Linked DNA regions of Homo sapiens. The protein of the gene in region 3 purifies or fractionates together with the protein of the main gene of each other region. This does not show direct contact. Each region holds a gene or a part of one and is shown on either strand. Other genes may lie near its edges. The genes, in order: STAT3, DBNL, CNP, BCAR1, ACOT1, SIRT3 and RAP2B.

What was found.
Region 1: the proteins of CNP (region 3) and STAT3 purify together in Homo sapiens (co-immunoprecipitation; one large-scale study listed by IntAct). This does not show direct contact.
Region 2: the proteins of CNP (region 3) and DBNL purify together in Homo sapiens (affinity purification with mass spectrometry; one large-scale study listed by BioGRID and IntAct). This does not show direct contact.
Region 4: the proteins of CNP (region 3) and BCAR1 purify together in Homo sapiens (co-immunoprecipitation; one large-scale study listed by IntAct). This does not show direct contact.
Region 5: the proteins of CNP (region 3) and ACOT1 purify together in Homo sapiens (affinity purification with mass spectrometry; one large-scale study listed by BioGRID and IntAct). This does not show direct contact.
Region 6: the proteins of CNP (region 3) and SIRT3 purify together in Homo sapiens (affinity purification with mass spectrometry; 3 studies listed by BioGRID and IntAct, with this or other methods). This does not show direct contact.
Region 7: the proteins of CNP (region 3) and RAP2B fractionate together in Homo sapiens (co-fractionation; one large-scale study listed by BioGRID). This does not show direct contact.

Annotation. Positions count from the first base shown.
Region 1 is NC_000017.11:42,312,824-42,315,442, forward strand, and holds the end of STAT3 (signal transducer and activator of transcription 3), read right to left. Parts: 3' UTR 501-2,619; downstream 1-500. UniProt on the Homo sapiens protein: Signal transducer and transcription activator that mediates cellular responses to interleukins, KITLG/SCF, LEP and other growth factors. Once activated, recruits coactivators, such as NCOA1 or MED1, to the promoter region of the target gene.
Region 2 is NC_000007.14:44,065,202-44,068,701, reverse strand, and holds part of DBNL (drebrin-like protein), read right to left. Parts: coding exon of another isoform or gene 3,173-3,500; 3' UTR 1-3,172. Other genes in the region: PGAM2 (phosphoglycerate mutase 2), read left to right, coding at 3,173-3,500. UniProt on the Homo sapiens protein: Adapter protein that binds F-actin and DNM1, and thereby plays a role in receptor-mediated endocytosis.
Region 3 is NC_000017.11:41,973,295-41,976,794, reverse strand, and holds part of CNP (2',3'-cyclic-nucleotide 3'-phosphodiesterase), read right to left. Parts: intron 3,321-3,500; coding exon 2,871-3,320; 3' UTR 63-2,870; coding exon of another isoform or gene 25-62; 3' UTR 1-24. Other genes in the region: DNAJC7 (dnaJ homolog subfamily C member 7), read left to right, coding at 25-62. UniProt on the Homo sapiens protein: Catalyzes the formation of 2'-nucleotide products from 2',3'-cyclic substrates. May participate in RNA metabolism in the myelinating cell, CNP is the third most abundant protein in central nervous system myelin.
Region 4 is NC_000016.10:75,241,625-75,245,124, reverse strand, and holds part of BCAR1 (breast cancer anti-estrogen resistance protein 1), read left to right. Parts: intron 1-2,034; coding exon 2,035-2,655; intron 2,656-3,500. UniProt on the Homo sapiens protein: Docking protein which plays a central coordinating role for tyrosine kinase-based signaling related to cell adhesion. Implicated in induction of cell migration and cell branching. Involved in the BCAR3-mediated inhibition of TGFB signaling.
Region 5 is NC_000014.9:73,540,143-73,544,296, forward strand, and holds the end of ACOT1 (acyl-coenzyme A thioesterase 1), read left to right. Parts: intron 1-1,144; exon of another isoform or gene 1,145-1,159; coding exon of another isoform or gene 1,160-1,265; intron 1,266-1,350; coding exon 1,351-1,553; intron 1,554-2,907; coding exon 2,908-3,513; 3' UTR 3,514-3,654; downstream 3,655-4,154. UniProt on the Homo sapiens protein: Catalyzes the hydrolysis of acyl-CoAs into free fatty acids and coenzyme A (CoASH), regulating their respective intracellular levels. More active towards saturated and unsaturated long chain fatty acyl-CoAs (C12-C20).
Region 6 is NC_000011.10:226,343-229,842, forward strand, and holds part of SIRT3 (NAD-dependent protein deacetylase sirtuin-3, mitochondrial), read right to left. Parts: intron 1-3,500.
Region 7 is NC_000003.12:153,168,187-153,171,127, forward strand, and holds the end of RAP2B (ras-related protein Rap-2b), read left to right. Parts: 3' UTR 1-2,441; downstream 2,442-2,941. UniProt on the Homo sapiens protein: Small GTP-binding protein which cycles between a GDP-bound inactive and a GTP-bound active form. Involved in EGFR and CHRM3 signaling pathways through stimulation of PLCE1.

The DNA.
Region 1 (2,619 bases), 340 kb from region 3:
CCTGTGGGCGCCCGCGTAGCTGAGGTTGGGGCGCCTTTCCCTGCATTATCACCGCTGGCTGCCGGGGGCCCTGCAGCCACCACCGGGTGTCTGCGTGTTGTCCCCGCTGGGTGAACTGAAGGGAAAGTGATAAAGGAGCCAACTGTGGAAGGGGAGGCCTTGGTGCGGTGGGAGTATCTACCCCCCACCCCGCTTAGGTGGCTTATCTGACCCCAGACAGGACGAGGCCGCTCTGGGGGGTAGGAGGGGGCCGGGGAGGGAGGCCTCCACTCTGACACCTTTCTGCCGTTGGACTATTGACCTCCTGCTCCTCCAGGCACCCCTTACCTCCGGGCTGGTGGCTAACATAAGGGGGTTGGCGGGGGGGATTAAGGCAACCACCTCCTCTCAAGACCCTTTCCGGCCCTTATCCCAGGCCCCACCTGTGTGTGAGGCCCCCTCAGAACTTATGCAGGGGAAAAGGAAGCCTCCACCAGCCAAACAGAGCTGCCATGCTATCAGACGGTTCCTATATAACGTTTATTTCTGGAAGTTAAAGTAGATACAGCAATATACCAAAAAAAAAAAAAAAAAAAAAAGACAAAAAACCTCACAATAATATAAATTTTTACACTATGAAGTACACATTGGAATTTGAATGCAGTGGCCAGGACAGCAGCTTATAAACCACCTTATAGGTAGGTAAGCAACCCACGGGATTCCCTCGGCTGGGCTGGGGATGGGGAGGGGGCAGTGGACAGGAAGCGGGCAGGGCCTGAGGACCCTGTTCTTTAATGGGCCACAACAGGGCTCAGCTCCTCTCAGAACTTTTGCTACAATCAGAGTTAAGACCAGATACATGCTACCTAAGGCCATGAACTTGACAATATCTGCTCCAGAGAAGCCCTGAACCCTCGCCCTAGGTCCCTATGATTTAAACCCAATGGTAAGCCCAAGTCTCACCTTTCTAAATATTCTGTTTATCAGTTAAGCTTATTATGTACTGAAGAGTGTTGCTGGAGAAGTAAGAGCTCTGCATGACACATCAACTGTCTCCAGGCAGGAGGACTGGGGCGAACCCTGTTCATCTTAGAGAAGGTCGTCTCCCCCTTAATTCAGAGACCAGCTAATTTGATTTAACAAACAGAATTCCACAGAAACTCTGATCAGCTGAGGCAAGGTGGTTTTGAGTTGCCAAATCCGGCCATGCCTCTGAGTCAGAGGCAGCCCATCCAGCACGTGCTAGGTGTTCCCATACGCACAGGAGAGGCGAGCTAGCCAGCCAAGGCGGGCAGGCGGGGAGGCCCTCTAGCTGTTCTGCCTCACCTGTGGGGCCCCAGCAGGGAGGAGTCACCAGCCTCAGAGGGAGGCCAGGTATACACCCTCATACGAGGGCAGACTCAAGTTTATCAGTAAGCCTTTGCCCTGCATGAACTGAATGAAGACGCCATTACAAGTGCCACTGGATATCACCAAGAAACTGGCTAAGAACCATATTCCCTGAGCTCAACCAGACACGTCGCTGGGGCCCCATAGTGTGCATCATGTCCAACCTGTAACTCTCTCCCCCTCTTCTTCCATGAGGTCCTGAGACCAGGATTCCTAAAACAAACAGGATGAGGGACCTTTAGACACGCAAGGAGACATGCCTCTAGCAGGATCAGGGGGACTGGGGTCGGGAGGGTGGGGCAGGAAGGAAGCCAGAATCAGAAGTATCCCAGCCCTGATAAGGCACCCACAGAAACAACCTAGCCTCTGAAACAGCAGATCAAGTCCAGGGAGAAAGGGAGTCAAGGTTGTAAGCACCCTCTGCCCAGCCTTACTCACTAAAAGGCCAATACATTACAAAGGAAAATAAGTCTATTTATAAAAAAAAGTCTAAAATGCTTAGATTCTCCTTAAACCTTCCTATTTCAACACCAAAGGCCAGGTTGCAGCTTCAGATGTCTTAAGGGTTTGACCTGAAGCCCGTTTCAGGGATTATATAAATTACCAGCCTGAAGGAAGCTGAATGCTTAAAGCACCAAGGAGGCTGTTAACTGAAGTTTCTTTTTTTTTTTTTTTTTTTTGAGACAGAGTCTCAGACTGTCGCCCAGGATGGAGTGCAGTGTGCAGTGGTGCAATTTTGGCTCACTGCAACCTCCGCCTCTCAGGTTCAAGCGATTCTCCTGCCTCAGCCTCCCGAGTAGCTGGGACTACAGGCGCCCACCACCACACCCAGCTAATTTTTTGTACTTTTAGTAGAGACGGGGTTTCACCGTGTTAGCCAGGATGGTCTTGATCTCCTGACCTTATGATCCGCCTCGGCCTCCCAAAGTGCTGGGATTACAGGCGTGAGCCACCATGCCCGGCTGCTTAAGTTTCTTAAATACAGAAAGGCTATGCTGATACAGTGTTTTTTGCCCTTTAATTGTTATTATTTCTTAATTTAAAAAGAAACCTAGGGCTTAGATAGTCCTATCTTCTATTTGGATGTCAGCAAGGTTAAAAAGTGCAATGCCAGGAGTATGTAGCTATAGGTGGCCTGTGGCATTTGCTTACAGAAACAGGCAGAAGGATGCCGCAGGCACCAGGAGGCACTTGTCTAAGAACAACAACAACAATAACAAAAAGCTGCTGAGAAAGGAGGGCAGGGGAACA
Region 2 (3,500 bases), on a different chromosome or scaffold from region 3:
TACTTTCTGAAGGCTGGTTATAAATAGCTGCTTTGAAGTCTGTATCTGATCATTCCAATAGTTGAATCATCTCAGGATGGGCATGTATTGATCATCTTCTTTTCTCCCATGTTAAGATTTTCCTGGTTTTCATACACTGGGTTATTTTGGATAACCTGGATATTTTAAATATTATGTTGAGACTCTGGACCTTGTTTAAATCCTAAGCAGAATGTTGACTGTTTAAAGTGTTTGCACTACTAGTCATATTAGTCCTGTATCTACACCGGTCAGTCTGGGACCTGCAATGTGCATCTAGGGTCAGCCCTGTGCGCAGCTTGGCAGCAAGCCAATGACTTCACATATCACTTTATCGGATCACTCACTTCATCTCTCCCTTCTCTGTACTCTCCCTGAAACACAACAGCTCCCTGCAACATCCCTACCAAGACCTCCAGCCACAAATCTGGGGCTCTTTCCCTACCTACCCTGCTGCATACTCCCTGAAACTGCATCCAGGGCCCAGCGCAGGGGGGCAGAAAGGAGCTGCAGAAGGTGGTTGCCCCATGCTTTTGGGGCCATGGCTCCTCTAGACAGAGGGTAGCGTTACCCTCTCAGGTTTCAAGTGCGTACCCAGCTCACACTACCGTCACTGTGCCACCACTGCCACCTCCATGTTACTGCCCAGGAGCTGGGGTAGAGAAGAAAAGAAAAATTGGAGGGATTCCCCCAACTCACTGACTTCGAGGGGCTTCACATCCCACTCCTCTGATTCTTCCTGGAGCTCTTTCTGTTGGTGCACTTGAGGTTTCAAGCCGCCTGTGTGTCCAGGCTAGGCAATACTTGTTACCTCACCACTTCTCTGCGGAACTTTGAATCTGATCTCCTTTTCTTATCTGTCTACTGACAGCTGCTCCTGCATCTGTCCAGGATTGGTGGCTGTCAGTGGGAGAGACATGGGAAGATGCTCCCTCCACCTTCCTGGGACCACCTTGTTGACTCAGCAGCCTTCCTCGCCGCCCACCATGCTATGCCTTCCTGGATGGAGGCCCTGAGGGTGGCTTTTGGTTTTCCTACCCCTGTACCCCTCCAAGAAAGCTCTGGCACACTGCAGAGGCCAGCAACTACTTGTCAAATGAATCAAAGGAAAGTCAAGCCGGAGCCAAGGGTCAGAAGCAGGGGCTTGCTTCCCCGAAGTCCAGCCCTTCTTTGGGCTCCCCTTTCCTTTTTGACACCTCCTGCTTGGTTGGCAGTGAGGTCTCCCAGGTCTGGGGGATCCTTGCCACTGCTTCTGCACCCAGCCCTGGCTAAGCGGCCTTGTTCTCATCAAAGCTGCCGAGACCTGCAGGGTACTCAGCTTCTACTTCCACTCCTACACAGCTGCAAGTGACTTGAAAATATGACCATGCTTCAAAGTCTCCAGTGATTCCCACTGTGTTGGGACACAAAGCCCACCTCTCTGCCATGTGCCCCTGATGGTCGCTGCCCCAGCTTGTTTGCTTTCTGTAGGGCTTGGGTCTTTGCCAACCCCTCTACCTGAATTGCTCTCCCTGTAGGACTCATCATAGCTGAGGCCTTTGCACTCCGCTCTTTCCACTCACATGTCACCTCAGGGCTGTCCCCGGCCTCTCCTTTCCCATCTCTCCCAGTACATTATGGTCCTTCCTTCCTAGCATCTGGTGCTATCTACGGTAGGCATGTTTAGCTGCTGGTACGATCCCTCCTCCACTGAAATATGGGCTTCATGTCTGGCCCCTGTGGGACTGCCAGAGCCTGGTCCTCAGTCATGTTTAGTTGGGCTAGTGAATCAACTCTTGGTCAAAGGGACAAAAGCAGATGAGGAGATGTGGCTTCAATCAGGATCAGTGTGGAACAGTGAGACCTGCGCATGGCACTGCTAGGAGGGATGGGTTCCACCTGCCAGCCTTGGGGGTCCTGGCAGCCGACAGGACTTTGCCCACTGGGACTTGTCTGCCAACCTTTGGGTACAGAGCCTTAGCTTCACAGGCCCCAAGCCAGGAGCCCCTCCCCAGGTAGGCCAGCAGGGATGGAGGGAGGCCTGTCGAGGGTTTCTTGCACACTCAGATCCAAGTCTCAGAGTGGTGGTCCCTCTGCTGGCCTCTCACCTACCCGCTCCTGTTATCAGAAGTGTCGCAGGTGACAGTGTGGTCACTGGGGTGGGAGGAAATGGGAGGCCCTGGATGGGGCCCATGCCCAAGGGTCTGGCCATGGCCCCTTCATTAGGGCCCCAATTGTGACTTTATTGCTCATAGTCTCTTCCCTGCCTTGGTGGCTCTCATCCCCCAAACCTGAATGCAGAAGTCTTGGTCCTAGACTCAACTCCGTGCCACCCTTCAGCCTACGTTGTGGGTTCCTGCTAAGCTGAGCATTTACCTAACAATCAAGACTTCTGACAGTCCTCAGTCCTGCCCCCAAACCCCCTTGGATTTCTCTTTTTCAAGGTGGTTTCGGCTAGGAGAGTGAGCGTGGCTTGGGTGAGGGCAGATAGGGTGGGAGCATGGGGCATGTATGGATGAGACCTTGACAAAGGGACCCCGGAGGAAAGACAGGGGCCCTTTCCCCCTTTGTCCTGGAAACCCGGCTCAGCCCCAGCCCTTGCCCATTCTGCTGCTGCTGCCTGGTACCTTCCACAAGGCCAGACTCCTCTCCACAAAGCTGTGGTCTGCACCAGCTCCTCTGGCTCTCCTCCTCTGCCTGCTGAGGGCCGCCTCCTAGCCTGGCTGCCAATCACAGGAGAAAGGGGTTGGGATTTTGTTTGTGCCTCTGTCTGAGCAGAGAATGGCTGATAGGCCACTGAGCGTTGCCCTGGAGAGCCCCTCTGTCCCTGCTATCCCCATCTCCCCTGGCCCAGACTTCTGCCCTTCACGCCCATCCCTGACCAGCAGCCCCACTCAGTCTGGGCTCTGGGTGCCAGCTGGTTATAGACATGCCACCTGAACCCAGGCCAGGAGCTGGTGGATGCGTGGGGCTATTTTAAGCACAGCCTCTTGGCCTGCACACTCCCCTGGCCCCCAGCCCCCAGCAGCTCAGCTACTGGTCACCTGCCACCGCCTGGAATGCTGATTGGCAGTTGGCTGGGGTGGGTGGGGGCTGGGAAGACACTATTATAAAGCTGGGAGTGTTGGGAAGCAGCCGTCCCCGTCCAGAGTCCTCTGTGGTCCCTGCTGCCACCATGGCCACTCACCGCCTCGTGATGGTCCGGCACGGCGAGAGCACATGGAACCAGGAGAACCGTTTCTGTGGCTGGTTCGATGCAGAGCTGAGTGAAAAGGGGACCGAGGAGGCCAAGCGGGGAGCCAAGGCCATCAAGGATGCCAAGATGGAGTTTGACATCTGCTACACGTCAGTGCTGAAGCGGGCCATCCGCACCCTCTGGGCCATCCTGGACGGCACGGACCAGATGTGGCTGCCTGTGGTGCGCACTTGGCGCCTCAATGAGCGGCATTACGGGGGCCTCACAGGCCTCAACAAGGCAGAAACGGCCGCCAAGCACGGGGAGG
Region 3 (3,500 bases):
ACCAACCCCTCTTTTCTCTTTCAGCATCTGGTCCAGGGAATTTCTTTTTTCAATTTGGCTAATGAAGGGCAACCACCCAGAACCCAGAAAATGCAGATTCACTCAGTTTAATCTTGAATGTGGAAACAGTTCACCTCCTCCCTTCATCACGTCTCCGTGTGCTTAGAGCAGTTTCGTTTTCTCAGTTGGATGCCCTGTGTCTCTGTGAGTGGGGTGGAGCAAAGGGAACCAATGCCGAAGACCGAGGGCAGGGGAGGGAGGCGGGGGTGGACAGGGAGGCAGCTTGTGAATTTTTGTTTTACTGTTTAACTTTATTAAAAAAGAAAAAAAAAAGAGAATAAAATGTTTTGACCCTTCCTGGCCCTTTGCTCTGGCATCTGCATTGTCTCCAGTCTGTGAGCCAGAGCTGAGCCCGACCTGGACTTGGGGTGCAGCAAGCTGCTGCATGCGGGCTGTGGGCACCCAGCCTAGTGGCAGGTGGGGCACTCTGCCTCTCCCAGACCTGTCCAGCATGTGAGTGCTAGGCAGGCCCCGGCTGTGCCTCTGGGCCCAGCCTAACATCAGTCACAGAGAAGCGAGTTCAGAAAGCATGCTCACTTTACGGTGGGGCCCCAGAAATCACTAGAAGCTGTGTGTGTCCAAAGCTCAGGTGGGTACTAAAAGCTGTGTGCGTCCAAAGCTCAGGTGGGTACTGACCTAGACAGGGCAGTTTACTTACAAAGACTCTCACAGTTCCTGTTGCAGTGTGGGTTCGAGGGAGATGGTAGACAGAGATAAAACCCTGCCTCCTGACCCCCAGACCCATTTGAGGTGGGACAGGTGGCTCCAGAGCTCTGGTCTGGCCACTATTTTTAGCAAAAGCCCCTGGCCTTCTCTGCTCCCTTTCTGCATGCAGGAGACACACTGCTCACGGATGCAGCGGCATGCACCATGCTGTCCTGTCAAGCGTGGTGTTCAAGGTGAGTAGCCTTCCCAGGAGCTCCAGGCACAGACTTGAAGCTCTAGCTGAAGTTCAGAGATGGCCAGGGACAGGCCTTGACCTAGAAAGGTAACTTAGGATTTCTCTTCATCTGAGCTCCTGCCCCTTTCTTTCAAGTCTTCCCCGGCTGGTGCCTTAGCCATGGTGGAATGATGCCTGAGTCAGGTCTTGGAAGTTTCCCATGTGGCTGACTAGGCCTCTGATGGCCTGGAAGGGACTCAAATGTTAGATCTTCCCTGGTGCTTGAAGTTTCAGTGACCTGCAGGTGGCCTTCCCTAGAGAACTGGGAGAAACCCATACCAGGAGCTTCCGGTCTTACTGAACTCTTTCTGATCCAGTGGGCTGGGGACACCTGTGGGCTTGGTGCCCTGGTTAATGGGGGATGAGAGGCTTTTGTGCTCCACATCCCTCGTACCCAGCCAACCCCCACCTTCTGTATGAGTCTGAGGCCAGCCTCTGCTTTCTGCCTCCTCATGAAAGCCAACACTGTTCAGCTGCCCAACCTCACCACAGCTGTGCCCGGCCAGCAGAGGGGAGACAGGACCGATGGCCCCAAGCTGTGGGACAAAGCCAGTCCTAATACACCCAGCCCTAGGGAAGACTGAGCTGGGCACAGAAGGGTAAGAGAGACTGCACACAGCTAGGATTAACATGATTTATTTCATTATCAGTCTTACAGGTTGCTGAGGTTGGGCAAAGCCAGGATAGTAACTTAAATCCAAAGCACTTTTGTTGAGTGACAACCCGATTAGCAAGGCCCTGTTACTGAACAGAGGGCAGTGGAGGGCACCCCAGGAACCACAGCACACAGACTAGTGTTAGAAACCCCTTCCCAGAAGCAACCGGTGGGACTTGGCCCTTACCAGCCAGGGGTCTACTCCATTGGCTCTTGGTGCCCACCAGCCCCTGTTAGAGGAGGCCCAGAGGCCTCCAGAGGCACCATGGAGGCAAGATGGGCTGGGTAGAGAGCAGGACTGGAGCTTCCTCACCAGGGTTCTGCCTCTGGCCCCGATCTCCCCATCCACACAGCGGAGCCAGGCCACTGGAAAGGACAGCCAGTCCAGCCCCTTCCTGGAGTGAGGCCCCCAGCCAGCGGGGATGTGGCGGCTGCTTAACTGTTCTGCTTTCTTCCCTAGTTATCAAACTGTTACCTAGTTATGGTGTGAAGGGGAGGGGGCAGGGACTTAGGACCAAAGGTGGGAGGTAAGCTCCTTTTTCTACCCTGGTAAATAGCCCCAGCCTTCTTGGGGCTACACTGATTAAGAAATGGGATCACTCAGGAGGATTGCTTGAGCCCAGGAGTTCGAGGCTGCAGTGAGCCATGATCGCACCACTGCACTCCAGCTTGGGAAATAGCAGGACCCTGTCTCTAAAAACAAAGAAAAAAGACAAGGAGATGGAATCAAAGCCCAGAGGTCCTCCCCTTCTCAGAGCCACCACTAGTTCTCTGTGACCATGGAAAACTACCCCCAGCCCCACTGCCTTTTGCCTCCGGTCAGTGGGTTTTGCGGGGCTCTGAGGTGTCTCCCCACTCACCCAGCTCTGGGCAGAGCAGCTGGGCTGGGCTGGGGCTGAGCTAACCAGAACCTGGAAGTAGGGCTCGGGGTTCTGGCTGTGGCCCCATCCCTGGCTTGGCCCAGCCTCGTCAGCTTTGGTCCAGGTTCCTGAATGGTGCCTCCCTGCCCACCTTGTGTTGGGAGCGTGAGCATTAGAGGGGAAGAGGGCGGACAGGAAGGGAGGGTCAGTTATTTTACAAGTTTTTAAAAAGTTACAGGTAGGTTAACTTTGAGTAAAAAAAAAAAAAAAAAAAATGTCACAAAACAAGGATCAAACAGAGGGCACGTTTCCCTCTCCCCTTCCCTTCTAGGGGCATAAGTGGTGGTGAGAACACTCATATGATGGTGCAGGACTGCAAGGCGCCCCCCTTCCGGCTACCTTGCGTGGGCACAGGTTTGCCTTTCCCGTAGTACCCCGTGAAGATGGCCCTGACCTCCATGTTCTTGGCCAGGGTCAGCATCCAGCGCCCATTGCCCAAGGAATAGAGCTTGCCCCGGCTTAGCTCGCCCACCTCCTCGCCTCGGCTGCCCCCCTTCTCCTGCCGCAGAATCTCTAAGAGGTCAAGGCCCGTCTGCACGGCCTCTACGTCAGCTGCACAGCCGAGGGTGATGTGGGCGCGGCTCCCCCGCGGCAGGTTGTCAGTGGGTGACAGCTTGTCCACATCACTCGGCCACAACTGCAGTTGCTGCTCGCTTAACTCCACCCGGGCCCCAGTCGTCTTGGGTGTCACAAAGAGGGCAGAGATGGTCAGCGTGAAGGCCTTGGAGTAAGATTTCTTTAACACCTGGGGAGAGTGAGAAAGAGGGGCCCAAGCTAGAGATGGCAGGCTCTTGAGGAACAGCTGACCCAGGGAGGGTCCCTCCTGGAGGAGAGAAGGGGAAGTCTAACAGAAGTGAGCACAGCTGAGCAGGGGTCGGTATAGGCCCAGCATCCACTAACAACTGCGGCACGCACCTTCCATAGG
Region 4 (3,500 bases), on a different chromosome or scaffold from region 3:
GCAGGACAGCCCCCGCCCTCCCGCTCCTCTGTGGGGCTCTGGCCCCTAGACCTGCCGCACTGCCTGTCCCGTCCTGCCTCAGAGCCTGGGACATAGTCCACCGTTTTCTTTTTTTTTCTTTTTGTGTAGTTTTTCAGCCCCAAAGCAAGAAACACTCATTCCTGAAAAACAGGAAGAGAAACTATCTCCATTGTCTCAGACATCTCTGGTGTCTTCCTGACCCTCTCTTGTCTTTACGTTTCACAGGACATTTTCTTGAGATGTGCTTTTCACTTGAGTGCCTTTTTCATTTTGTTGTAATCATGGTGTGGACAGTGTTGCAGCCATCCAGGGCCTCTGCCCTTGTGCTCACCTTGGCTCCAATATGACTCCACCTGGGCCTGCCCTCTCCTAGCTGCCCCCTGGCCCCTCCCTTGGGCCTTGCTCCTCCTGGCTCTCCACACTCCAGCCTCTGGCCCTTTTAGGGACTGGAGGCTCCTAGCTGCTCTGGAGAAATGGGCTCCCTGCTGATGATGTCCACCCAGGGCAAGTGAACCATGGGGTCTGAATGTCTGATCCTGGGACCTGGGGCAACTACTGCCTACCCAGGCCGCTGCCTGGTATGCCATCGCCCTCTGATGCCGGCCAGGGAGATGGCGCTCAGAGGGGCACTGTCCAGCCCCTGCTCATATAGGGGAGGAGGGTGGGCCCTAGGGACTTGAAAGAGGCCTCACCCCCACTCCTCTGCCCCAAGGCACAGGCTCCTGCTTCCTGTTTCTGCCCAAGGGGGCGTGGCCCTTTCTTCCTTGTTTCACTCCTTGCAGATGGAGTCCAGAAAGTGGGACTTGGGCCCAAGTGGGGATGGTCACACAGCTACTGGCTGGCCAGAACCCAGGTCCCATTTCCGAGTCAGAGTCTCGACCAGGCTGCACATCTAAGACGCCAGGAGACTCTGAGGAGGGACCTTGCAGGGCAGCCCAGAGCTGAGGCCAGGCTGGTGGGGTGGCTGGAGCCCAGTGCCGGTCACTGTCCAGCCAGCCTGGCACTGTTCTCACACCCGGCTTCCCTGTGTGTGAAGTCTGGGGCCCCTGTGGAACCCATGCAGCCCTCTGCTGCCCTAGGAGGGGCCGCAGCCCTGGCCTTGTCTCACCCCGTGCCTCCCTCACACCTGCCTTTTGCTGCAACCGCCCACACCCTCCAGCCAGGGATCCTCTGTCTCTCTGGGCCCATCCTGCGCCTGGCACCTCGATGGGGCAGCAGCGGCAGGGGCGAGGATGCATGAGTGTGTGGTGGGAAACTGCGAGGCCTCCCTGCCTGGGCTCTAGTGTCCCAGCGAGGCTCCGCCCCTGCCCTCGCCACGGCACTCATGCCTCTGATCCCACAGCCTCCTCCAAGTCCCTCTCGGACTGCTTGGCTCCTGGGCCACATGGAGCACGTACCCGGCTCTGCAAGGGTTTGCTGAGGGCGACGGGGCCAGGACAGGGAGGGTGTGCCTCCTGTTTCTTTCCCAGCCTTGGGGAAGGTGTTTGAAGTTTCTAAATTAATTACTGACTTTTTGGATTTGGGGTAGATAGACTTTGTTAAGGAAGCTCTGTCTTATTGTTGTTCATTTTTTTATCCTAAGAAGCTGTTCTTTTTGTCAGATTATTTTCGTGCACCTCGAGAGAGAACCATTTGCTATTTGTTTTAACTTGGCAGCTTTGTCGTGATTACTGCCGCTCTCCTTGTGTTGGTCCAGGTAGCAGAGTGGCCTTGGGTGGGGCTTTTAGGGATATCTTGAGGGTCATCCCTGGAGTTTTGGTGGTGACAGTGGTCAAGAGGATTTTGAGGTGCTATACAGGTGCAGTTGAAAGAAAGGCCAGGATCAGCTGGGCCTTTCTGCTGGGGAACAGGTGGGGACAGTGGAGGCAAAGGCACAATGATCTCGCCAAACTCCACTGAGTTCTTTTCCTAGTATCAAAGCTGGGCACCTCCCCAGAGCAGGGCAGGAGCTGGGGAGCCCCTGACGCCCCATGCACATCCTTCTGTTCTCACACCTGTGTCCTCTCTCCCCAGAACGTGCTGGCCAAAGCGCTCTATGACAATGTGGCCGAGTCCCCGGATGAGCTCTCCTTCCGCAAGGGTGACATCATGACGGTGCTGGAGCAGGACACGCAGGGCCTGGACGGCTGGTGGCTCTGCTCGCTGCATGGGCGCCAGGGCATCGTGCCTGGGAACCGCCTCAAGATCTTGGTGGGCATGTATGATAAGAAGCCAGCAGGGCCTGGCCCCGGCCCTCCCGCCACCCCGGCCCAGCCTCAGCCTGGCCTCCATGCCCCAGCGCCTCCGGCCTCCCAGTACACGCCCATGCTCCCCAACACCTACCAGCCCCAGCCAGACAGCGTCTACCTGGTGCCCACTCCCAGCAAGGCTCAGCAAGGCCTCTACCAAGTCCCGGGTCCCAGCCCTCAGTTCCAGTCTCCCCCAGCCAAGCAGACATCCACCTTCTCGAAGCAGACACCCCATCACCCGTTTCCCAGCCCGGCCACAGACCTGTACCAGGTGCCCCCAGGGCCTGGAGGCCCTGCCCAGGATATTTACCAGGTGCCACCTTCTGCCGGGATGGGGCATGACATCTACCAGGTCCCCCCGTCCATGGACACACGCAGCTGGGAGGGCACGAAGCCCCCGGCAAAGGTAAGGCTGTCCTGGCACAGTTGTGCAGCCACACAGGTATAGCCCAGGCCCTGGTTTGTGGGCACAGAAGGGTCCAGCCACCCTCAATCACCGGCATTCCAGGAGTGGCTGTGTGTTTGGTCTGGGGTCAAAGTGGGAAGTGAGTGTTTGGGGGGTGTTCATTTGTCCGGGGAAGATGGATGTGAATGGACCCAGAGGGGAGATGCTCCGCTGGCCTCAGCCAAGCCGACCCGAGTGGTGGTGTCACCAACCACAGGGAGCAGCCTGTTGAGGCGTTCCAGTGGGCAGGCGGGGCTTGGCACATGGGGTCGGCAGTTGCTGGGCCCCCGCAAGGGAGAGGCCAGCCACTTCATGCTCAGGCTCCCCTGTGCCATCTGGGTTTACGTGTCAGCCTCTAGATGGGGTTCCGGCACATCTTCTGGCCGCCCCTGCCTCCACAGGCCAACCCCTCTCCACTTATGGAACATGCTAGGGGCCAGCGGGTGCGTATGGTGATCTGGATGTGACTCCTGGGAGGACGCTGCCCCTGAGATTGCTAGAGGAGGACTGCCCTGAGAGCCTCCTGGGCTCTTGCTGATGGGATGCTGGGCCTGGGGACAAGACCTCTGGCCTCCAGACCCTGAGCCCGCTTCCCAAGTCCACAGGGCCCCTGCCTCCCAAGCTCACCTGCCTGTAGGAAGGAGTCAGCACTAGACACTCAGCCCAGGGCTGAGGTGGAGACCTCATTGGTGCCAGCTGGGCAGCGAGTCAGCTGGGAGTTACCCCCACCCCCGCCCATGGGTGGCCTGGTACCCAGGAGGCATGGCCGGAGGTCGTTGGCGGGTGGGGGACTCCATGGACATGGG
Region 5 (4,154 bases), on a different chromosome or scaffold from region 3:
TAGAAGGAGTCAACATATTCATCTGCTCTGGGCAACAATTTGTCTTAACTTACAAAGTTAAATATGTTATTCTACTTGTACATGTGCACCAGGAGGCATATTCCTTATAAGAGGAAAGCCATTGCAGATGAGCAGTCTGGATTAATTTAAAAAAAGAGCAAAGTCAACTGGAAACAGTCCAAATGTCCATCAACAATAGAACAGATTAATAAATTGAGGTATATTTCCAGCAGTCAAAGTGATTGAACTACAGCTAGAAGAATCAACATCTATCAAGATATACAAAAGAAAAGAAAAAAATAAAAAAGAATCAACATGGATGAATCTCCAAACCACTGTTGAGTGAAACAGTCAAACACTAGGAGAACACATTCAGTATCATTCCATTTAGATACAGTTCAAAAAATAGGCAAAATAAAATATTGTTTAAGGTACATAATCTAAGTGGTAATACTATGAAGAAAACCAAGAGTGATACACAGAAAGTCCAGGATACTGGAAAGAGAGGAAAGGGCACAGGGGTCTGTGGGACGTTGATGGTTTGCGGGTATCAGCACTGAACTATGTCTTAAAAGTGTTGCCTGTAAGGTGTTTGCATTCTTTTTTTTTTTTTTTTTTTGAGACAGTGTCTCGCTCTTTCGCCCAGGCTGGAGTAGTGGCACAATCTTGGCTCACTGCAACCTCCAACTCCCGGGTTCAAGCGATTCTCCTCCCTCAGCCTCCCGAGTAGCTGGGATTACAGGTGGCCGCCACCACACCCAGCTAATTTTTGTATTTTTAGTACAGATGGGGTTTCACCATGTTGGCCAGGCTGGTCTCGAACTCCTGACCTCAGGTGATCCACCCGTCTCAGCCTCCCAAAGTGCTGGGATTACAGGCGTGAGCCACCAGACCCAGCCTGCATTATTATTCTTTAATTTTGTGTGAAACACAAAACCTTTAATGTAAATGATAAAAATATTCAGTAAGTGGAGTCATTCAGAATGAGTAGCCTTTTGAGTCTGTCTCCATTGAATAAGTGCATTCTGTTGAGTGCACTGGAGAGGAATTTGTGCTCTTCTATGTAGCAGTCTTTCTTTTTGTTTCTTGGTGGTGCACCATTAAATGGATTCATTCACCAGTTAAAGGACATTTGGGTTGTTTCCAGTCTTTGGCTACAATGAATAAAGTCACTATAAACACTTGCCAGAAGTTTCTGGACGAACACAGGTTTTCATTTCTCGTGGGTAGATACCTAGGAGTGGGATTGCTGGGTCACATGTGTGGTAAGTATATGTTTAACTTGGTAAGAAACCATCCAACTGTTTCAGGAATAGCTTAGTTTTGCATTTTGTTTTGTTTCTTCCCAAGAACCTGGGCCCTTTCCTGGCATTGTGGACATGTTCGGAACTGGAGGTGGCCTGCTGGAGTATCGGGCTAGTCTGCTGGCTGGGAAGGGTTTTGCTGTGATGGCTCTGGCTTACTATAACTATGAAGACCTCCCCAAGACCATGGAGACGCTCCATCTGGAGTACTTTGAAGAAGCTGTGAACTACTTGCTCAGTCATCCTGAGGTGAGTTCTTCTCTCAGATTTATGGGCTATGATGTATCAGGTCTCTTCTTAAATGGTCTGGGTTTTCACAGAAGTTAGCTCATTCATGACAGCCATTCCCTACCCCAACACACACTACCTTTTTTAGTCACTTCTTATAGACAGTTTCTTTCTTTCTTCTTCTTCTTCTTTCTTTTTTTGAGATGGAGTCTCACTCTGTTGCCAGGCTGGAGTCCAGTGGTGCGATCTTGGCTCACTGCAACCTCCACCTCCCAAGTTCAAGTGATTCTTGTGCCCCAGCCTCCCAAGTAGCTGGGATTACAGGCACCTGCCAACATGCCTGGATAATTTTTGTATTTTCAGTAGAGACGGGGTTTCACAATATTTGTCAGGCTGGTCTTGAATTCCTGACCTCAAATGATCCACCTGCCTTGGCCTCCCCAGGTGCTGGATTACAGGCATGAGCCACTATGCCTAGCCTAATTTTTGTATTTTTTTTTTTTAGTAGAGATGGGGTTTCGCCATGTTGGCCAGGCTGGTCTCAAACTCCTGACCTCAAGTGATCTGCCCACCTCGGCCTCCCAGAGTGCTGGAATTACAGGCATGAGCCACCACACCTGGCCTCTTATAGACAGTTTCTATTCAATTCTATATTACTATATTTCCTGCTAGTAAAGATATTTGTAGTTGGTATTATGCAATTTTAAATTCCAGTATGTTTTTTCTTTCTTTTTTTTTTTTTTTTTTTAAGACGGAGTCTTGCCGTGTCAACGAGGCTGGAGTGCAGTGGCATGATCTCGGCTTACTGCAACCTCCACCTCCCAGGTTCAAGCGATTCTCCTGCCTCGGCCTCCTGAGTAGCTGGGACTACAGGCGCATGCCACTTCTGCCTGGCTAATTTTTGTATTTTTAGTAGAGACAGGGTTTCACCATATTGGCCAGGCTGGTCTCGAACTCCTGACCTCAAATGATCCACCCGCCTCAGCCTCCCAAACTGTTGGGATTACAGGCGTCAGCCACCACGCCCGGCCATGAGATGACGTACTTGTTGATGACGACTCAGTTTAGTTATGACAGTGGGAATGGGTGGCTCAGGTGGGAGACAGAAAAAGATCATGGGAGATAATGAGATTAAGGAACTGAGAAACCAGAGTAATTGATAGATCTTCCACATGGTTATCACCAAGAGTGGTGATGGACAAATTGTGGAAAGGAAGAGATAGAGGGGAGGTAAATTCCCAAAGCTGCAAATCTGGGTAAATGGTAGAACCCAGATTCAGACTCAGGTTCAACTAACTTCCAGGGTGGGCACAACTCACCATATTCCACTGTTTGTGGAGCCATTCTTCTTCTTTTTCCTTTGTCCCTTTCTCAGGTAAAAGGTCCAGGAGTTGGGCTGCTTGGAATTTCCAAAGGGGGTGAGCTCTGCCTTTCCATGGCCTCTTTCCTGAAGGGCATCACGGCTGCTGTCGTCATCAACGGCTCTGTGGCCAATGTTGGGGGAACCTTACGCTACAAGGGCGAGACCCTGCCCCCTGTGGGCGTCAACAGAAATCGCATCAAGGTGACCAAAGATGGCTATGCAGACATTGTGGATGTCCTGAACAGCCCTTTGGAAGGACCTGACCAGAAGAGCTTCATTCCTGTGGAAAGGGCAGAGAGCACCTTCCTGTTCCTGGTAGGTCAGGATGACCACAACTGGAAGAGTGAGTTCTATGCTAATGAGGCCTGTAAACGCTTGCAGGCCCATGGGAGGAGAAAGCCCCAGATCATCTGTTACCCAGAGACAGGGCACTATATTGAGCCTCCTTACTTCCCCCTGTGTCGGGCTTCCCTGCATGCCTTGGTGGGCAGTCCTATTATCTGGGGAGGGGAGCCCAGGGCTCATGCCATGGCTCAGGTGGATGCTTGGAAACAACTCCAGACTTTCTTCCACAAACACTTGGGTGGCCACGAGGGGACAATCCCATCAAAAGTGTAAATTTTATTTGATCATGTGGCCTCTCTGTTGCTAATCTCTCCTGGAAACATCTGCCACATTTAGTGTGTGTATGTGTATTCATTCTTTCTCATAACTTCTTAAAGTTTCTTCCCCTCATTATTAAAATGAATTTACCAGTAAGAATGAGTTTTTAAGATTTTTATAAACTGTATACTTTATCAGTTTGGGAAGGGAGTAACTGTAGGAAACACAAGAAGTGGAAAAAGTCTCCTCTTCCTATCTCAACACACAACTGATAAGGCTTTAGTTCTGAAAGGAAAAGTGAGTAACATCAATTAACAGTGTCTGGTACGTAAATGGAGTTCAATAATTATTTGCTGAATGAGTATAAGTGAGCCAGGCGTGGTGGCTCACACCTGTAATCCTAGCACTTTGGGAGGCCAAGGTGCGCGGATTACTTGAGGTCAGGAGTTTGAGACCAGCCTGGCCAACATGGTGAAACCCCATCTCTACTAAAAATACAAAAAATTAGCCGGGCGTGGTGGCGCATGCCTGTAGTCCCAGCTACTCAGGAGGCTGACGCAGGAGAATTGCTTGAACCCGGGAGGCAGAGGTTGCAATGAGCTGAGATTGCACTACTGCCCTCCAGCCTGGGTAACACAGCAAGACTATGCCTCAAA
Region 6 (3,500 bases), on a different chromosome or scaffold from region 3:
TTCTCTGGGGTTCCCTTGACCAAGGGGAGGGCTCCATTCAGTTGGTTGCAGGGCTTAGAATTTTATTTTATATTTTATTTTTTTGAGATGGCATCTCGCTCTGTCACCCAGGCTGGAGTGCAGTGGCATGATCTCGGTTCACTACAACTTCTGCCTCCTGGGTTCCAGCAATTCTCCTGCCTCAGCCTCCCGAGTAGCTGGGATTACAGATGGGTGCCACCACAAATGGCTCATCTTTGTATTTTTAGTAGAGACGGGGTTTCACCATGTTGGCCAGGCTGGTCTCAAACTCCTAACTCAGGTGATCCACCCGCCTCAGCTTCCCAAAGTACTGGGATTACAGGCAGGAGCCACCGCGCCCAGCCTAGAATTTTATTTTATTTTTCTTAAGGAAGGCCTACAATTATTATTATTATTTTTTTTTTTTTGAGATGGAGTTTCGCTCTTGTTTCCCAGGCTGGAGTGCAATGGCCTAATCTCAGCTCACCGCAACCTCCGCCTCCCTGGTTCAAGCAATTCGCCTGCCTCAGCCTCCCGAGTATCTGAGATTATAGGCATGCACCATCACGCCCGGCTAATTTTGTATTTTTAGTAGATATGGGGTTTCTCCATGTTGGTCAGGCTGGTCTCAAACTCCTGACCTCAGGCGATCCACCCACCCGGCCTCCCAAAGTACTGGGATTACGGGCGTGAGCCACCATGACCAACTGGCCTACAAATTTTAAGCAGAAGAAATAAAAGAAAATTCATATGGAAAACCACAGTGGAGAAACCGCAAAACTCCAAAGACAAAAGTCTTAAAAAACAGGCAGAGAGGCCAGACACGGTGGCTCATGCCTGTCATCCCAGCACTTTGGGAGGCCGAGGCGGGTGGATCATGAGGTCAGGAGTTCGACACCAGCCTCACCAACATAGTGAAACCCCATCTCTACTAAAAATACAAAAATTAGCTGGGCATGGTGGCGCATGCCTGCAATCCCAGCTACTCAGGAGGATGAGGCAAGAGAATCGCTTGAACCTGAGAGGGGGAGGTTGCAATGAGCTGAGATCATACCACTGCACTCCAGCCTGGGCAACAGAGCAAGACTCTATCTCAAAAAAACAAAAAATCCAAACAACAACAACAAAAATAAAACAGGCAGAGAACAGATAGCAACAGTTTCAGAAATTTATATGAAAAGCCAAAAGATTCAGACCAGCCAACACAGTACTGAAGGAGAAGAACAAAGGTGGGGAATTAACATCAACCTGTTGCCCAAATTATCTATTTTATTCTCTTATTTATTTATTTATTTTGTTTTGAGATGGAGTCTCACTCTGTCACCCAGGCTGGAGTGCAGTGGTGCGATCTCAGCTCACAGCAACCTCCCCTCCCAGGTTCAAGCAATTCTTCTGCCTCAGCCTCCTGAGTAGCTGGGATTACAGGTGCACCACCACACCTGGCTAATTTTTGTATTTTTAGTAGAGATGGGATTTCACCATTTTGGCAGGCTGCTCTCAAGCTTCCCACCTCAGGTGACCCGCCTGTCTAGGCCTCCCAAAGTGCTGGAATTACAGGCGTGAGCCACTGTGCCCAGTCCCAAATAATCTCTTTTAAATGCAAATCCCTTCACATCATTTTCCTGCCTAAAAATCCTCCAATGCCTCCCATGATCGTCAGGATACAGTTCAAACCCTAACAGAGCAAGCAGGCCTCCCACACTCCAGGTCTCTGCTGCCAGAAACAGACTCTTACATCCAGACGGCCTCATCTCAAAGGTGCTTCCCAGCCTACTCTGTTCCTACAGCTGAGTCAGTGTAGTGTCCAGTACATATTTATAGTAAAATTCGTATGGCACCCAGTTGTAACTGTTGGATGACTCCACCTTATTTTAATTTCTATTCACATCCACAGAACCCAGCAAAGGGCCTGGCACTGAGGAGACTAAACTATTTGTTGAATAAATTGGTCATTCAATGAATGAGTTGACCAAAACAATAATACGTATATATCAAGTTTCTACTATGTGCTGGACTCACACTTCCTAATTTCAAAACTTACTACAAAGCTACAGTAACCAAAACATTATAGTGCAGGCACAAGGATATACAGATAACAATGGAATAGAATTGAGACTCTAGAAATAACCCATACACCTATGGCCAACTGATTTTCAACAACAATGCCAAGACCACAGTTTTTTTAAACAAATGGTGCTGGAACAATTACATATCCACATAAAAGAAAATGAAGCTGGATCCCTACCTTACAGCGCACACAAAAATTAACTCAAAATGGATCAAAGAACTAAATGTAAAAGCTTTAAACTATAAAACTCTTATAAGAAAACAGGAGTAAAACAATACCATTTCTCAGATATGATTCCAAAAGAGTGAGAAAATAAATAGACAAACTAGATTTCATCAAAATCAAAACTTCTATGCATCAAAAGACATCAACAAAGTAAAAAAGACAACCTACAGAATGACAGAAAATATTTGCAAATCATGTCTCTGATAAGGATCTAGCTTCCAGAATATATAAAGGACTCTCTTAACAATAAAAAAGACAACACAATTAAACAATGCGCAAAGGACTTCAATCTCCAAAGATATACAAATGGCCAAAAAGCACATGGAAAGATGTTTGATATCATGAATCATTAGGAAAATGCCAATCAGTGCTACAGTGGGTTACCACCTCCCACCCACTGGGATAGCTGTAATTAAAAAATGGAAAGTAAGTGTTGGGATGTGGAAAAGATGAAACCCTTGCCCACTGTTGGTGGAATGTAAAATGGTCCAGCTTCTGCAGATAACAGTATATTCGTTCCTCAAAAAGTTAAAACGGGCCGGGCGCAGTGGCTCTCGCCTGTAATCCCACACTTTGGGAGAAAGAGGCAGGCGGATCACGAGGTCAAGAGATCGAGACATCCTGGCCAACATGGTGAAACTACTCTACTAAATACAAAAATTAGCCGGGCGTGGTGGTGTGTGCCTGTAGTCCCAGCTACTCAGGAAGCTGAGGCAGGAGAATCGCTTGAACCCAGGAGGCGGATGGTACAGTGAGCCGAGATTGCGCCACTGCACTCCAGCCTGGTGATAAGAGCTAGACTCCGTCTCAAAACAAACAAACAAAAAAGTTAAACATGGGCAGGGCATGGTGGCTCACGCCTGTAATCTTAGCACTTTGGGAGGCCGAGGCGGGTGAACCACCTGAGGTCAGGAATGCAAGAGCAGCCTGGCCAACATGGTGAAACCCCATCTCTACTAGAAATACAAAAAACATTAGCTGGGCATGGTGGCAGGCACCTGTAATCCCAGCTTCTCAGGAGGCTGAGGCAGGAGAATCGCTTGAACCCGGGAGGCAGAGGTTGTATTGAGCCGAAATCGCGCCATTGCACTCCAGCCTGGGTGACAGTGTAAGACTGTGTCTCAAAAAATAAATAAATAAATATAGCTAAACGTGGAGTTACCCAGCAATACTTGTAGGTATCATACTCAAAAGAATAAAAAACAAG
Region 7 (2,941 bases), on a different chromosome or scaffold from region 3:
ATCTGGGTTTTTAAAGACAATTTGGGGGCCTTCTAAAGAAACAATAGTAGATCTAATTACAAGTAGTGGATTGCTTACTTCAAATTTCTCTTTTACAATTTAGAAAGTTTAGTACCAGTTTATAGACTGAGGGAGTAGTAGCTACTATTTAGATGCTGAGAATAATATTATCATGCTTGGGTGGGGAAGAAAGGCCCTTACTCAAATCTCCATTTTCATTTTTAATGCTTCCTGGACTTCAGTTATTTTCTTGCTTTTGCCTCAAGAATAATAAATATTTTTGGTTAAAATTTTTTTTGTTCAACCCTGTTGTTGTTACTGTTATTTTCATAGCACAGTAGTCTACAGCTCTCTATAGTAGCTTAATAGCTATTTGCTGAATGAATGGAACATGGAGTGTTACATCTGAAACTATTCTATTAGAAGGTGAAAAGTGTTGATTGAAGAATGGTAGGATTTTATCTTCCCTACCCATGATAGATTTATTAAGATTGTCTTTGGAGCTATGTCTTCCATTCCAACTATACAGAAATAAACTTTTTTAAAGTTTAGTTTGCCCATCTGATAAAGGAACATTCCTGTATGCTATTCTAAGGTTCATTTTCAACAAAAGTTACAGACATTTATGGTTGATAGTTTGAGATCTATGACAGTTTTAGGGAGCTCCATATTCAAAAGGCTATTGCTGGTGATAGTACAATGAAACACTGACTTCAGTATATTTTTATCTTGGCTTTCATTTTACGGTTATTTCTACTACTGTTAATATGGACTAATACTTGATTTTGTGAACCTGTTTTAATTTTAGGGTTATATTTATGTTGGAATAATATATTTTAAAAGTGTCCTATACTATGAATTTATTTGCCATATATAAGACAATCAGAATTATCTGGTAGTTTATTCTAATCCTGGTTAATAATCATTAGGACTAAACTATTTACATTAAAGAAGGAAAAAACAATGAGATGATAATTTTTTTTTTCTTTGAGACGGAGTCTTGCTCTGTCGGCCAGGCTGGAGTGCAATGGCGCGATCTCGGCTCACTGCAACTTCCGCTTCCTGGGTTCAAGCAATTCTCCTGCCTCAGCCTTTCCAGTAGCTGGGACTACGGGCGCCCTCCACCACTCCCGGCTAATTTTTGTATTTTTCATAGAGACAGCATTTCACCATACTGGCCAGGCTGGTCGTGAACTCCTGACCTTGTGATCTGCCCACCTTGGCTTCCCAAAGTGCTGGGATTACAGGTGTGAGCCACCGCACCCAGCCTTTTTTTTGAAATGGAGTCTGGCTCTGTCGCCCAGGCTGGAGTGCAATGGCGCGATCTCGGCTCACTGCAACCTCTGCCTCCCAGGTTCAAGCGATTAGCCTGCCTCATCCTCCTGAGTAGCTGGGATTACAGGCGTGCACCACCACGCCCGCCTAATTTTTGTATTTTTAGTAGAGATGGGGTTTCACTACGTTGGTCAGGATGGTCTTGAACTTCTGACCTTGTGCTCCACCCACCTCAGCCTCCCAAGAGTTGGGATTACAGGCGTGAGCCACTGCACCCGGCTGAGATGATAATTTTATTTAAAAAAAAAATTGTAGAGATAGGGTCTTGCCGTGTTGCCCAGGCTGGTCTCAAATTCCTGGGCTCAGGAGATCTTCCCTCCTCAGCCCCTCAAAGTGCTGGGATTACAGGCCTGAGCCACTGCATCCAGCCAGGAGTGACAATTTCTAAAGCCTTAATTAGTGAAATGGTTTGTTTTGAGAAGCAGAAATGACTAAGTGGTATAGACATGCAGGAAAAGCAAAATGGGCCTTATGGCTATTGAAATTATGAGTGTTGATCTGTTCTATAAATTGGAGGAGACAGCTATTTGCATTCTTTCTTATCCAGTTGACTAAACTTACTCATTTTAAAATGAATTATCTTGCAAAATTATGTGAGGTTAAGTTTGTCAGAGGATTGAAAACGTGGTTGGTTTATTTGTGGTAATTGTGAAAAATTGCAAAGGTAGCAAAATTTTTTAAAAAATGGAAAAGAGAAAGATTATTGATGCCTTGTGAATACAGGTGTCCCCAAAAGGCCTGAGACCAACCTTAATTATCAAGAATATGGTTGCAGTGGAAATTGGTAAACAGCTGAAATTGATTCATTGATTATTCAACACTTATTGAGCACATACTACTATTATTAATAGCTGTACTGCGAGCGCTAATACTTAAAAGAGGAAGTCAGGTGAAGGCGCAACAGCTTTATGCTCTTTTTCACTATAATCTGTGAAATAGTGTATATTAAACAATAATAGTATATGGAAAAGCACATCTACATGTGTCATCAGTTATAATACTGTGGGGCTGTTTGGCAGACAATAGAGTAGATAAATTTATTGAACATTGGGCCTTTGAAAGGTATGTGGAAATTGTAAATAAAAATGGATTCCATGAATTTCAAATAATAATTGTTCTGTTGTATGTGAAACTGTGTAATAAGATTGTCATTTTATTTACTTTTCTGCATCATTTTCAACTTCCTTTTTGAGATTAGCTAAAATTGAACACTTACAAGAGGAAATGATTTTACTTTTATATTTTCATGTCCAAGGGAAGAGGAAAACATGAAGAAAACAGATTTATAAAATTTACTCACAAGGCTGGGCACGGTGGCTCACACCTGTAATCCCAGTAGTTTGAGAGGCCGAGGCAGGTGGATCACGAAGTCAGGAGTTCAAGACCAGCCTGGCCAAGAAGGTGAAACCCCGTCTCTACTAAAAATACAAAAATTAGCCGGGTGCGGTGGGAGATACCTGTAATCCCAGCTACTCAGGAGGCTGAGGCAGAATTGCTTGAACCTGGGTGGCAGAGATTACAGTGAGCCAAGATCGCACCACTGCACTCCAGCCTGGGTGATAGAATGAGACTCCATCTCAAAAAAAAAGTAAAATAAAATTAAATT